Homo sapiens: one gene and its partner. The protein of the gene in region 1 purifies or fractionates together with the protein of each later gene. This does not show direct contact. Each region holds a gene or a part of one and is shown in the gene's direction. Other genes may lie near its edges.

Region 1 (7,727 bases):
GTTTAATTTTACTACAGTATACACCAATATCTGTCATTACTAAGTATATATTTAAGTTTACTTACAGTATGTTCAAGTATGTGGTAAGAATTAGTAGACTACAGTAATGTTTGGTTAGGTGTGGTGGTGTGTGCCAGTAGCCCAAGCTACTTGGGAGGCTGAGGCGAGAGAATCACTTCAGCTGGGGGAGGTCAAGGCTGCAGTGAGCACCACTGCACTTCAGCCTGGGCCACAGAGCAAGACCTTGTCTCAAAACAATAACGATAATAGGCTGGGTGCAGTGGCTCAAGCCTGTAATCCCAGCACTTTGGGAGGCTAAGGCGGGCAGATCACTTGACGTCAGGAGTTCGAGACCAGCCTCGCCAACATGGTGAAACCTTGTCTCTACTAAAAATACAAAAATTAGCCAGGTATGGTGGTGGGCGCCTGTAATCCCAGCTACTAGGGAGGCTGAGGCAGGAGAATCGCTTGAACTCAGGAGGCAGAGGTTGCAGTGAGTTGAGAGCATCACACCATTGCACTCCAGCCTGGGCGACAGAGTGAGATTCTGTCTCAAAATAATAGTAACAATAATAATGTCCTCCAGGGAATTGTCTTCTCGTGTCCACACTGGCCCTAGGCTTGGCCACATGTGGTTTGGCCACCTGGACATTGGCACATATGAGCAGAGCAGAGGGAAGTATAAAAAGAGCCCCTGTATTGGTGCCTGCCTGGGCTGGCCTTCCGGAGGATGACAGAGCAGAGATGAGTCAGTCATCTCTGCCAAGACCCAAACACTTGAGTGAGCTCAGCTGATGCCTCATGAGACACAGGATGCTGTGACCCCAGCCGAAATGCCAACCGCAGAAATGCCAGCAAACAAAAGGCTGCCTTTTGAATCTACTAAGTTTGGGAAAGTGTGTCACACAGCAAAAGGTAACTGATATAGAGGTGGGTGTCCTCCTTAATACTTTTCTTTTTTCTTACTTTATCTATAGGGTAGCCTTCCACATGTATTTCTCTAGATTTTTATTTTATTTTTTATGTTTATTTATTTATTTTTTGAGACAGAGTCTCACTCTGTCGCCCAGGCTGGAATGCAGTGGTGCAATCTCAGCTCACTGCAACCTCCGCCTCCTGTGTTCCAGCAATTCTCCTGCCTCAGCCTCCCGAGTAGCGGGATTACGGGTACATGCCACCACGCCTGGCTAATTTTTGTATTTTTAGTAGAGACGGGGTTTCACCATGTTGGCCAGGCTGGTCTCGAACTCCTGAACTCAGGTAACCCGCCCACCTCAGCCTCCCAAAGTGCTGGGATTACAGGCATGAGCCACTGTGCCCGGCCATTTCTCTAGATTTTTAATAGCATTTTGTGAGGTTTCAAAAATATCCTGGGATTTTGCCTGGCAATAGAATAAATGTATATATTCATTTGGGAAGTAAATGAACTCTGGACTCAGGCCCAGTGACACATTTTCACCAGCAATACCACTATGACTCCACTAAGAGAACAACTGGAGTCTCCGCATGGCCTCTCCTGGCCGCTGCCCCATGCACCTCTTCTCTTGGTTAATTTTAATGAGCCTTTTCATGGTAATGAACCATAACCACGAGTACAATAGCTTCTAGGGAATTCTCTGAGTCCTTCTAATGAATTTCAAACTTGAGGGTGGTCTTGGGGCTGTCCCTAACTTTGTACTTGTATATTTAGTTTGCTAAAGATTATACCATGAAGGGGTGTTGAATTTTACTAGATGCTTCTACACTGAGATTTTCATACTTTTTTTCTCCTTCATTCTATTGTCATGAATCATGTTGACCTTGCAATGTGAAATCAACTGTACTCCAGTTCCTGGAGTACACCCAACTTGGTTGTGATGAGTTACCTTTTTTACATTATCATTGGATCTGATTTGCTAATATGTGGTTTGGAATTTTAAACAATGTTCATGAGAGAGAATACCATGTGTGTTTTCTCCCATCATGTCCCTTTCGAGTTTTAGTATCAAATTTGTTAGCCCTGTAGAACAAATTGGTAAGAAGAGTTCCCCTTTATCATTTGGAAGACTCTGTGTAAGACTGATGCTCTTTCTTCAATTTGAGTCTTTTTTTTAACGGATTCTAGTTCTCCTTGTCATCAATTTTCCTGAATACATTAGTTACTGAAAAATATGACTCCAATCTTGGTGTAACCATAGACTTCTATGTTTTTTCTGGTCCTATGTCCTAGCAAGCCTGTTAATATTTTATGACTACAGTTAACAGTAACTTACTGCATATTTTCTAATAGGTAGAGGAGAGGATTTTGAATGTTCCCAACACAAAAGAAATGATGTTTGAGGTGATGGATATGCTAACTACCTTGATGGATCATTATACTTTGTATATACATGTCAAAATATCACACCAAATCTCATCTTGAATTGTAGCTCCTATAATTCCCATGTCGTGGGAGGGACCCGGCAGGAGGTAACTGAATCATGGGGCAGGCTTTCCTGTTCTGTTCTCCGGATAGTGAATACATTTCCTGAGATCTGACGGTTTTATAAAGGGGAGCTCCCTGCACACGCTCTCTTGCCTGCCGCCGTGTAAGACGTCCCTTCGCTTTTCCTTTGTCTCCTGCCATGATTGCGAGTCCATTAAACCTCTTTTTCTTTATAAATTACCCAGTCTCGGGTATGTCTTTATTAGCAGCATGAGAATAGACTAATATGCTCTGGAAGATATTATCTTACTCCAGACATTATTTTAGATCTTTGCCAATTTGACCCGTGGCAAACAGCACTCCAGCATAGCTTTAATTTCCACTGCTCTTGTTCTGATTGGGGCTGAGCATCTATTCGCCTGTATAGGAGCATTTGTATTTTCTTTGCTCTGAACTGTGTTTATATTCTACGCCCACTTTTCTTTTCTTTTTTTAAGAGATGGGGTCTCACTCTGCTGCCCAGGCTGGAGTGCAGTGGTGCAATCATAGTTCACTGCAGCCTCCAACTCCTGGGCTCAAGGGATTCTCTCACCCCAGCCTCCTGAGTAGCTGGGATTACAGGTGGGTGCCACTATTTCCAAACCACTTTTCTTTGGTGATCTAGATTTCATTTGCATTTGCAGAATATCTGTATATTAAGGAATTTAACCTTTATGTGGGATACAGCCAGGAAAAACTTTTTTCCCCATTTGTCTTTTCACTTTGACATGCATAAACTTTAAATTCTCAGGTAGTCACCTTTATCAAGTCCCATTTTCTTTTACCTGGGCAGTAACCTAATGGGATTTTCTACTTCCAGCCTTCCTGCCACCTCCTCCAAATCTATTACCAACAGTGATTCTTGGTGGTTGTGGTGCCTCATGCCTGTAATCCCAGAACTTTGGGAGGCCAAGGTAGGAGGATCACTTAAGGCCAGGAGTTGGAGACCAGCCTGTGTAACAAGACAATACCCTGTCTCTACAAAATTACCAAAAAAAAAAAAAAAGTTAGCTTGGTGTAGTGGCACACTTCTGTAGTCCCAGCTACTTGGGAGGCTGAGGCGTGAGAATCACTCGAGCACAAGAGTTCGAGGATACAGTGAGCCATAATCACGCCACTGTTGTCCAGCCTGGGCGAAAGAGACCCCCTTTTTTTTTTTTTTAAATAAGAACAGTGATTCTTTTCAAGCACAATTCAGATTCCAGTTCCTTCTCTGCTGACCATGCCAGTAGTCTCCATCCCACTCCCAGAATAGCCCAAAAGTCCCTCCACCCCTCACACTTAAAACTTTCCCACGAGATCACAGGGTTCTTTCTCACTGCACTGAGACGTGCTCCTGCCTCCTGCCCCTGCCTCGGGCTTTGCCCCAGCCATTCCTCTCCTGAATTCTCGTCCACTCTTCCTTTTGGTGCTTTAAGACGCTCCTTATCCTAGAGACCTATGTGAGCAGCGCCCCCACGTCACTCCCAGGTTTCCCGACAGCATTTCAGCATTTACCACCGACCTTGGCGCATCCGCACCTGCGGATTGATCTGAGGATTCCCCCCCAACTTCCAGCACTTGGCTCTCAGCTGCAGCCACGCCTGCCGGGCCTGCTGCAGGCGCTCAGGGTATTACTTAAGTCAATGATTGCAGGTTCTCGCATCCTATTTAAAACCTTTTCCACTAAGAGATTTAAAACACGTGTCCCCTGCTTTGAACTTTCACGTTACATTTCTTACGTGTAAACCTAGGAAGCCTTTGGAGATAACCCCGGTCTCTGGAGAGGCTTGGATAGACCTCGGAGCCCAGACCGCCCGGGAATTGCCGTGCCCGGCTCCTCCCGACCCCGGCACGGATGCCTCGGCGGAGAAGTTGAGCCAGGCAGAAGCGAGAGAGTCCAAACCTCTGTTTGCCCCGCCACGCCCGCCCGAGGGCCCCACGTGGGCCCCAGGCGCAGGCGCGTTCAGTTCAGGGCCAGACGCGCGGAGACCTGGGAGCTGGCGGGGCGGGGCCGGACTGGGCGCGGGGAGACCTGGGAGCCGGCGGGGCGTGGGCGTGGCGGGGCCGGGCGCAGGGGCGGGGGCGGGGCAACCGAGGGCGCGCGCGAGCCCCAACGGCCGTCGCCGCAGCGCGGGAAGACGCGCCACAGATGCCCCGCCCGCGTGGGTTTGAACAAGAGGCCCCGCCCCCGGCCCGCGAGTGGCCAATCAGCGGGCGTAGCGCGCGGAGAGCGCAGCGTCGACCCTTTGTGGACGCCGAGTGGCGGTCGCTCGCCCCGCCCCGCGCCGTCGGGCGCTCCTTCCTCAGCGGCGGGAAGCTGGCGGCAGCGGCGGTGGCGGTGGCTGAGCAGAGGACCCGGCGGGCGGCCTCGCGGGTCAGGTGAGCGGGCCCGGCGGACCGCTAGGGCGTCTACGGCGGCGTGCACTTTTGTGCTGCAGGGCGCGGAGGAGCCTGGGGGCGGTGCGCGGAGTCTGTGGCTCCTGGCGCTGGGTCCGGGGCGGAGGCGGCGCCCGGGACCACCGCTGGGGCTGCCGCGGCGCCCTCGCCGCCCTCCTGGGCGCTGGTTCCCCCGCGGGGTGGCCGCTGCTGAGGGGGCCCGGGGAACAGAGGGGCCCGGGCCGCCGTCTGCGTTCCTTGCGGAGCGCGGAGCTGGGGCTTTGCCGAGGCCTGCGGGCGGCCCCACGCGGGAGCCGCTTCACGAGGGCCCGGCTGGGGTACGCAGCGGCGTTTCCCGTACCTCGGCTCTAGTTGCAGCGGAGGGAACGCCAGGCGCGCCGCAGCCCCCTCTGTCGGAGCCCGGCCGCGGAGAGGGCCGCGGATGTGGGAGGAGGCCCAGACCCCGGGCGGGTCGGCCAGCGCCGTCTTCCCTGGGCTCCTCCGGCGGTGCGAGGTGGGACTAGGGAAAGTCCCCGAGACACTTGCAGAAGTCAGACGCAAGCCTCCCTCCGCGTCTTCAGACGCTTCTCGCCCCGCAAACAGGATCGTCGTGGCAAAGGCTCCGACAGCTTGCTGGAATAGAGGGTCTCCGCTGCCTCGCTTCTCCTGTGGCCTTCGTGTGGGACGCACGGGACGGCGGGACCCAGATAACCGTTCTCTCAAAGCGAGCCACAGAAAAACATTGCCTGTTCACAAAACTTACGTTTTATCAACTTTCTACGTACAACCACTCTATTTTCAAGTGTCACCGTGTTTTATAATTAGGGTGGAAATCCAGAATACAAAGTGAGTTACACCCCTTTTCTAGGAAGAGTAGTAGGCTGTATCTTGGAAAAGGGGCTAGGAAGTTTCCCTCAACTTGCCACTGGAACATGTTTTCAGGGAAAAGAAGGAGTGTGTTTCGTTCCAAGTAACAAAAGTACCTGCAATTGGCTGGGCGCGGTAGCTCACACCTCCCAGCACTTTGAGAGGAGGCCTAGGCGGGTGGATCTCCTGAGGTCCCGAGTTCGAGACTAGCTGGCCAACGTGGTGAAACCCCGTCTGTACTAAAAATACAAAAATTAGCTGGGCGTGATGGCGCATGCCTGTAATCATAATCCTAGCTATGTGGGAGGCTGAGGCAGGAGAATCGCTTGAACCAGAAAGGCAGAGGTCTCAGCCGAGATCGTGCCATTGCACTCCAGCCTGGGCGACAGAGCGAGACTCCGTCTCAAAAAACAAAAAAAACCAAATACCTGAAATTAACATAACAGTAATTGTTCATGAACAGCCTCCAGGAGACTTGTAGTGGAAGGTGGAGCTCCCACTCAGTACTCAAGACTGCAGACCTTGCTCCTCTTCTCCCTGTTTTTCCGATAAAGTATTTCAAAGCTTATCTGATGTGTGAGGAATGGAAATTGTTGATGATTTGCTTAAAAACCCGAAACTTTGAAGTGGCTGCAAGTCCAGCTGTGAAGGTGACAGGTTAGGTCAGAGTTGAGTCTGTCCCCAACCGTCCCAGCCCTACTGATCAGAATCTGGGAATCTGCGTTTTCAGCCAGCCTCGTGGTATTGCTCAGCCACGAAGGTGTGGCCACTGCTGCTGTAGTGAAGGACCAGTCCCCGAGCTGTACTCTGCTTGCCTGAGCAGCACTGCGGGGCTGCTCCCTGCTGGCCTCTGCCTCGGTGGGCCTAGGTTGCTCTGTCCCTAGTGGCCTGTTGGCTGTTCCACCTGCCATGTCGGACATGTCCTCAGTCCGTCTGGCCCTCTTCGTTTTTCTCTGTCTGGTCGGTGCTTGGTTTAGAAGCCTGAGGGCAGTGCTGGGAGTTGACTGAGGGCTTGGCTGTCCCGGTAACAACCTGTGGAGTTGGTGGGATTTTAGGCATTTAACTAGATGTGTAGAAAGAGCTTCAAAACTGAGCAGGGGGCCAGGCATGGTGGCTCACGCCTGTAATCCAGCACTTTGGGAGGCCGAGATGGGCGGATTGCCTGAGTTCAGGAGTTCGAGATCAGCCTGGCCAACATGGTGAAACCCCGTCTCTACAAAAAATACAAAAATTAGCCGGGTGTGGTGGCGCGTGCCTGTAGTCCTAGCTACTCGGGAGGCTGAGGTAGGAGAATCGCTTGAACCTGGGAGGTGGAGGTTGCAGTGAGCTGAGATTGCATCACTGCACTCCAGCCTGGGGGACAGAATGAGACTCTGTCTTAAAAAAAAAAAAAAAAATTGAGCAGGGAGCTAGGCTCCACAGCCCCACCGGTATGGTATAGGGCCCTTTCTCATTCCATATTAGAAGGAGTTAAGCAGCCTCAGGCAGAAGTCACACAGGAGGCCCTCAGGGAGCTGGGCCCAGCCCAGGCATCCCTCGGGGCTGGTTAAGACCATGCTCTTGCTGACTTTGTCCCAAACACAGATATAACCCAATTCAGGGTGATCCTCACAGGCCAGCTTCTCCGGGCCCAACCTTATCCTCTTCACTCCTGAACACATGTTCTGGGTGACAGCTCTTTGGGGTCACGTGACTGTAAAAAGCACCTGTGAGCTTTACTCTTTTTTGTATTAATAGTAATAAACTTGTCAGCATTTTAAAATATTGGGTACAACACAGAATTAACAGCTGCTGGAGATTTGGAACATTGGAGAGGAATGATTTGAAGTGACTGAACAGGGATATTCTCCTGGTACCAGAATGGGATCTGTGCATGGGATGAGATGCAGTGGAGGATGATGGGGATTATCTCTCGTCCCTTGTAGAACTTGTGTAACCCAGGCACATCTATGCAGGTCCCTGGGTTACACAAGTCCTACAAGGGGCGAGAGAGAATCTCCATCATCCTGGAGGATTCTTTCTGGCCCCTTGTAGCATTTCCCACCCTGATGGTGGCTAC
Region 2 (7,681 bases), on another chromosome or scaffold:
TGAGGCCGCAGTGAGCTGTGGTCATGCCACTGCACTCCAGCCTGGGTGACATAGTGAGACCCTATGGCAGGATCTCACCATTTTTTCCTCCAAAAAAAAAAAATTGTTAAAAAAAATTCCAGTATTGTGCAGTAGCTGGATGTTTCAAATTTTAAAAAGAAGAAAATAAAAAATAAAATAAGAGTCTTGATAGAACTTGCTTCTCCCTTCCACCATGTGAGAAGGACACAGCTAGATGGCACCATCTACGAATCAGAAAGTGGACCCTCACCAGACGCTAAATTGCTGGTGCCTTGATCTCAGACTTCCTGGCCTCCCAAACTGTGAGAAATAAGTTTCTGTTGTTTATAAGCTACCCAGTTTATGGTATTTTGTTACAGCAGCCTGAACTAAGACACGTTGCAACTTCCACTTTCCATTCAACATATATCGTCCCCATTTCTCTTACTCCATACATACAGATCTAAGTGGTTTTTATGAAAGTTCTTTAATAATCCATAGTTGGTATGTCCGATATTTTATGCAATAATCTATCAAATAGTGGACTTTCCTATTTTACATATGTAGAAACTGAGGATCAGGGCCGGGCACAGTGGCTCACACCTGTAATCCCAGCACTTTGGGAGGCCAAGGCGGATCACTTGAGCCCAGGAGTTCGAGACCAGCCTAGGCAACATAGTGAGACCCCCGTCTGTACATTTTTAAAATTAAAAAAAAAAAAGGCCAGGTGTGATGGCTCACGCCTGTAATCCCAGCACTTTGGGAGGCCAAGGCGCACGGATCACCTGAGGTCAGGAGTTTGAGACCAGCCTGACCAACATGGAGAAACCCCATGTCTACTGATAATACAAAAATTAGCTGGGCATGGTGGCGCATGCCTGTAATCACAGCTACTGGGGAAGTTGAGGCACGAGAATCGCTTGAACCTGGGAGGCAGAGGTTGCGGTGAGCTGAGATCGCGCCATTGCACTCCAGCCTGGGCAACAAGAGTGAAGCTCCATCTCAAAAAAAAAAAAGGAAACTGAGGATTAGGAAAGCCCAAGACCCAACATCAGGAATGTCTCCTAGTCCCAGAATCTCTTGCATTTGTACACCCCACCCCACTATGAACTCAGGCATAGTAAAATAATCCAAAATCCCCCATCAAATATTTTATATATATACATATATATGTGTGTGTATATATATATATATACACATATATATGTGTGTGTGTGTGTATGTATATATATATATATATATATATATATATATATATATATATATACATACACATATATATGTATTTCTATTTTATTTTAATTTTTTTTGAGACAGGGTCTTGGCTGTTGCCCAGGCTAGAGTGTAGTGGTGTGATCATGGCTCACTGCAGCCTCGATCTCTTGGGCTCAAGTGATCCTCTTGCCTCTGCCTCCTGAGTACTACAGGGATATACCTGATGTACTACAGGCATGTGCCACCACTCCCGGCTAAACTTTCTTTCTTTTTTGCAGTGACAGGGGTCTTGCTATGTTACCCAGGCTGGTCTTTACCTCCTGGCTTCAAGCAATCCTTCCTCCTTGGACTCTCAAAGTGTTCAGATTACAAGCATGAGCCACCACCACACCTGGATTGTATCATTATATTAAAGCTGAGTTTTAGTCAAGCAAGCCTTTGGAGTCAGACTGCCCAGGTTCAAATTCCAGCACCCGATGAGTGGGGTGGCTCCTGTTTGTAACCCCAGCACTTTGGGAAGCCAAGGCAGGTGGATCATTTGAACCCAGGAGTTTGAGACGAGCCTGGGCAACACAGTGAGACCCCAGGGGTCTCTACAAAAATTAAAAAATTACCCGGGCATGGTCACACATGCCTTTAGTCTTAGCTACCGGGCATTGGGGGGGCCGAGGTGAGAGGACCACTTGAGCCTGGGAGATCAAGACTGCACTGAGCACAGAACAGATTGCGTCCCTACACTCCCAGCCTAGGCAACAAGGCAAGACCCTGTCTCAAACAAACAAACAAATTCCAGCACCACTATTACCATCTATGAGAACTTGGACAAATTCCTAAAGTTCTCTATGCCTCGGTTTCCTCATCCATTAAATTAGGATGATGCTGCTACTTTACATATATCATAGAGTTATTGTCAGGGTTAAATGAATTAATTTACTGAATACACTTTACTGTAGCTATTATCACTGGCATTGATCTGTATAGGTATTGATTTGTATAGGTATTGATCTGTATAGGTATTGATCTGTATAGGTATTGATCTGTATAGGTATTGATTTGTATAGGTATTTGTTAAATACTTATTAAAGTTTGCAGTTTTGTTTTGCATTTTGGAATCCATAATTTGTTTTTATTTTGTTTCTGAGATTTATAATGCCTCATTTAAGCCTCTGAAAATTCCTAGGCCCTAAGCACTTCAAAGGCCACCAGCCCAACATCCCAAGCAGCCTGACACCAAGACAGGCACGCATAGCTAAAAAGATCCCTAGCCTCAGAGACCTTGGGGCTGAGAGGAGTCCTGGGAATAGGGAGGGCTGGGACTGAAATATTCAACCCCATCCCCACTTTTATGAGCAGCAGTTTCCTAACTGCAGTGGGTAAGGGTATTTGAAATAGATGCTGGGCCGGGCACGGTGGCTCACACCTGTAATCCCAGCGCTCTGGGAAGTCCAAGTGGGCGGATCACCTGAGGTCAGGAGTTCGAGACCAAAGACAGCCAACACGGTGAAACCCCGTCTCTACTAAAAATACAAAATTAGCCGGGCGTGGTGGCTCATGCCTGTAAATTCCAGCTACTCCGGAGGCTGAGGCAGAAGAATCGCTTGAACCCGAGAGGTGGAGGTTGCAGTGAGCAGAGATTGAGCCACTGCACTTCAGCCGGGGCAACAAGAGCGAAACTCCGCCTCAAAAAAAAGGCCGGGTGCGGTGGCTCACACCTGTAATCCCAGCACTTTGGGAAGCCAAGGCAGGCAGATCACCCTGAGGTCAGGAGTTTGAGACCAGCCTGGCCCAAAGTGGTGAAACCCCGTCTCTACTAAAAATACAAAAATTAACCGGGCGTTGTGGTAGGCGCCTGTAATCCCAGGTACTCTGGAGGCTGAGACAGGATAATTGTTTGAACCCAGGAGACAGAGGCTGTAGTATGCCGAGATCGGGCCCCTGCATTCTAGCCTGGGCAACAGAGCGAGACTCCGTCTCAAAAAAAAAAAAAGAAAAAGAAAAAGAAGAAAAAAGAAATAGATGCTGTGGGTATTCAGATCTGTCAGAGTGCTAGCTCAGCCTAGCCCTTCAAGTAGCAGAATAAAGGAGGAAAGAGCATCCCAGGCCTTCCCATCCCCATTCAACTCCCTCAGTTAGAGTGGTCCTAAGATTGCGGTGGGGGGGTAGGGCTGTGTTGAAGAGGTTAAAAACAGAGATTAGTCAGATCCAATCCTGCTCCCACTCTATGGAGGAAACAAATTCGAATACATAGTCACAGCCCAGGCTCTGGGATTGAGAGACAGAGAGAGAGATTGGATTGGAGAGAGAGAGAGAGAGAGATGGGATTGGAGAGACAGAGAGATAGATGGGACTGGAGAGACAGAGAGAGGGGTTCTGTGGCTCTGGAAGCCTAGAGAACAGAGCCTGAAGACAGAGAGGAAAGGGAGTAAAGGGGAGGCATTTATGCAGAGATCTCAGAAGTGAATATGAAAGGCACCCCTAGCAGAACGCACAGCTTGGGCAAGGAGGCTTGCTGGCATGAAAACGCAAGAAGTGCTCAGGCAGCTGTAATTCTCCAGGACATCAGATAAAAGGTAAAAAACAGATGGGAGACGCGCCTAGACAGGGTATTGAATACCAGCCCGAGGGGCTTGGGTTTCATCCAAACAGCAAGGCAACTGAGCTCAACACAGTGAGACTCGGTCTCCACAAACATTTTTTTAAAAATTGGCCGGGCCTAGCGGCGCGCGCCGATAGTCCCAGCTATTTCTGCAGGCTGAGGCGAGAGGATCATTTGAGCTCGGGGAGGTCCAGGCGGCAGTGAGCCAAGATCCTGCCACTGCACTACAGTCTGGGCAACAGAGCGAGACCCTGTCTTTAAAAAAGTAAAAAAAAAAAAAAAAAAAAAAGAAAGAAAAAGAAAAAAGAGAGAAGGGCAAGTCGCTCCCTTCTCTGGGCCTTGGCATAAATCAAGCACAAATCAAAGTCTCACTCCCTCCTCCTGCCGCGCAACGGCGCGGAGAGCCAGCCAGCCAGCCAGCGGAACCACGGCCTGGTAACCCAAAACCTGCACACCCTCCAGCTCCCCACAGGACGTCACGTATTACCACCGACGCACGCGCAGAAGCCTTCCCGGGGACTCAAGAAAGGGCAGGCTTAGCCTCCTCCCCATGTCGCCCCTCATTGGCTAGAAACTACTGCTCGTCTCGGTCGTTGTTAGCAGCGACCAGGGCGGGTACAATCTTGGTCGCTAGGACACGGCTAACTTCCGCTTTCTTCCCCCTCTCCTAGGCTCAAACTAGTCAAATCTTGTTCACTCGACCAATGGCAAATCGGAAGTGGGCGGGACTTCACAAGTCCGGACCAAAGAAACGCGAGCTTAGCCCTGGGTAGCGCGGCCAATGGCCGTGGAGCAGCCCCTGTAAACTGGCTCGGGCGCCCCCACGCCCGCCCTTCCTTCTTCTCCCAGCATTGCCCCCCCCACGTTTCAGCACAGCGCTGGCCGCAGTCTGACAGGAAAGGGACGGAGCCAAGATGGCGGCGGCCGACGGCGACGACTCGCTGTACCCCATCGCGGTGCTCATAGACGAACTCCGCAATGAGGACGTTCAGGTCCGGAGGCTACGGGGGACTTGGGGAAGACGCGGAGGGGTACCTGGGGGCACGGGCGGCCCTCGCGGAGAAGACTCAGCGTTCGCTGGGAGTGGCGGAAGGGGGCGACGGCCAATCAGCGTGCGTCTCTTATCTCCCCGGTTGCCCGGACTCCTTGAGACGGCGCTCCCGATTGGGTGTCGGCCCAGTGGAGGGCGGGGGCCAGCGCTAGCCTCGAGGGTCCCGGGCCTGCCCTGTGCGCGCGGCGGTCCGCGGTCCTGGGAGGTTGTGGCCAGGGCTGGGGTCTGCGGACTGGGTCTGGGAGAGAGGAGGACTCCGTGATTGGCGGCGGCCTCTGAATGGCCTCTTGGGGATGTGGGGCGCGCATGACTTGCTCCAAGTAGGGGAGGGCCGCCGGGTGGGTCGGGACCTGGGAAGGTTTTTTTGTTTTCTGGGTTTCGACTGCTGGGCCAAGTGGGGACCGAGAGGCGAAGGCCTGCCATCCTAATTCCTGCTCTTCCTCCGCCTCTCATTTTGGTTTAGGTGTCCTAAGAGGACGGGGACGCAAAAACACCCCCCCACCAAAGGTGGGGACTAGCCAAGTTTAGGAGCGAATTAGGTTGTAGAAACCCGCCTCCCCATCTCCCCGGATCCTCCCATTGACCAGGATAGGGGTTGAGGGATTTGCTAAGCAGATGAACATTTATTTATTTCTTTTTTTTGAGACAGTCTCTGTGTCGCCCAGGCTGGGGCTGGGGAGCAGTGGCGCGATCTCGGCTCAGTGCAACCTCTGCATACCGGGTTCAAACCATCCTCGCCCCTCAGCTCCCTAATTAGCTGCGATTACCGGCGCGAGCCACCACGCCCGACTAATTTTTGTATTTTTAGCAGAGACGGGGTTTCACCATGTTGGCCAGGCTTGGTCGGGAACTCTTGACCTCAAGCGATCCACCCGCCTCGGCCTCCCAAAGTGTTGGAATTACAGGCGTGAGCCACCGCGCCCAGCCCGGATGAACATTCCTGGTTATGGGATGAGGTGACCCAAGGCTCTGAGCCGGGCTGGTGTGGGATTGAGAACAGTTAGAACTGCAAGTCCACCTCCCACCTGCTGTGTGACCTTGTGCAAATTACTTCACCGCTTTGGGTCTCTGTGTTCCATAAAATATGGGCTAATTGTAGTCCTGGTCTTGCTGGAGGGACTTGTGAGGGACTGAACGAATTATGACACAAATAAAAAGTAGAATGGTGTCAGGCCTGTTGTAAGGGCTCGATAAATATTAGCTGTAATTATTGGGAGTGGTGATTAAAGAGGTCCCATCCTCCCTTTAGGTCTGTTTTCCCATTTATAAAATTGGACAAGGTGCACTGGGTAACCTGCCAAACGTGGGTCTCGCCTCCTAGGTTCCTGGTATATCACTGTTTCTGGTGGCATACAGGTTGTGGTTGTATTCCCGGCCCTTCCACTTGTTACTGATTGACAAGGGCAAGTTAGTTAATCTCTCTAGGCCTGTTTCCTCTTCTCTTTAATGGGGTTAATTACCTAGTTCATAGGGCGGTTGTATGAATTCTTTTGTTCAGTAAATATATGCCATGTATGAGATATGATGCTGGGGATATAGTGGAGACACCAGTTGCTATACAGGATCCAGATGTGAAACAGGTCAGCAGAGCTGAATAGATGAGTGTTTGAAAAGTGATGGGAAGGAAACAAATAGGATGTAGTGGTAGCGAATCCATATTGAATTGGGCCTCTATTCTGTGCAGGGCGCTGTTCTAAGCACTGGTATATAGCAGGAACAAGACAGAAAAAACTCTAGGCCTTGGGGAGTTTATTTTGTAGTGAGGAGAGACAGACAATAAACAGAGTATACTGGGGATAAGCATTAGGGAGACAAATAAAAATAAGAGAGATGGGGTATATATAGGGCATGCAGTTTTAAAGTGTGGTCAGGGGAGGCCTTGTTGAGATCCTGTTTGAGAACACGCCTGAAAGCAGAGGGCACAGCAAGTACAAAGTGGGGTGGGGCAGATCCATTTTAAGAAGGCCAATCAGGCAAGGCCCCTCTGAGGATGCAGAGTTTGAGAAGAGATTGAAAGAAGGTGGGGGAGAGCCTCCCAGGAAGAGGGAACAGATATGTAATGGCCTTTTTTTTTTTTTCTTCTTTTTTTGAGACGGAGTCTTGTTGCTCTGTTTCCCAGGCTGGAGTGCACTGACGCGATCTTTGCTCACTGCAACCTCCACCTCCCGGGTTCAAGCAATTCTCCTGCCTCAGCCTCTTGAGTAGCTGGGACTACAGACGCAGGCCACCACGCCTGGCTGATTTTTGTGTGTGTGTTTTTAGAAGAGACTGGGTTTCCCGGTGTTGGCCAGGCTGGTCTCAGACTCCTGATCTCAGGTGATCCTCCTGCCTCGGCCTCCGAAAGTGCTGGAATTACAGGCGTGAGCCACTATGCCCGGCCAGTTTTTTGTTTTTTTTAACTCCAGGATCACTTCCTTCAGCTATCTATCCTCCCATCTTTTCATTCATCCATCCATCCACTAACCAGCAGACATTTGTAGGGAGATGTCTTTGTGCCAGGATCAGAGCTAGGCAGCTTACCGGTTTATTCTAAAGAATATTGCAAAGGATACAGATGAAGACACATGCAGGGTGAGGTGTGGGGGAAGTTGTGTGGAGCTTCCATGCCCTCCCTAGGCATTCCACCCCCCAGGAACCGCGAGGTGTTCATCTGTCTGGAAGCTCCTATGGCTGCTTTTGTGCTACAGCCCAGAGTTGCATGGTTGTAACAGAGATGGCCGCAAAGCTTCAAATATTTGCTGTCTAACCCTTTGCAGGGAAAAAATTGCTGACCTCTGACTTAAACCATCTGCGTAACAAATTATTGGGTGCTTGCTCTA

The links.
Region 2: the proteins of CDCA4 (region 1) and PPP2R1A purify together in Homo sapiens (affinity purification with mass spectrometry; 5 studies listed by BioGRID and IntAct, with this or other methods). This does not show direct contact.

What each region holds. Positions count from the first base shown.
Region 1 is NC_000014.9:105,018,076-105,025,802, reverse strand, and holds the start of CDCA4 (cell division cycle-associated protein 4), read left to right. Parts: upstream 1-4,719; 5' UTR 4,720-4,804; intron 4,805-7,727. UniProt on the Homo sapiens protein: May participate in the regulation of cell proliferation through the E2F/RB pathway. May be involved in molecular regulation of hematopoietic stem cells and progenitor cell lineage commitment and differentiation.
Region 2 is NC_000019.10:52,185,372-52,193,052, forward strand, and holds the start of PPP2R1A (serine/threonine-protein phosphatase 2A 65 kDa regulatory subunit A alpha isoform), read left to right. Parts: upstream 1-4,680; 5' UTR 4,681-4,725; coding exon 4,726-4,803; intron 4,804-7,681. UniProt on the Homo sapiens protein: The PR65 subunit of protein phosphatase 2A serves as a scaffolding molecule to coordinate the assembly of the catalytic subunit and a variable regulatory B subunit.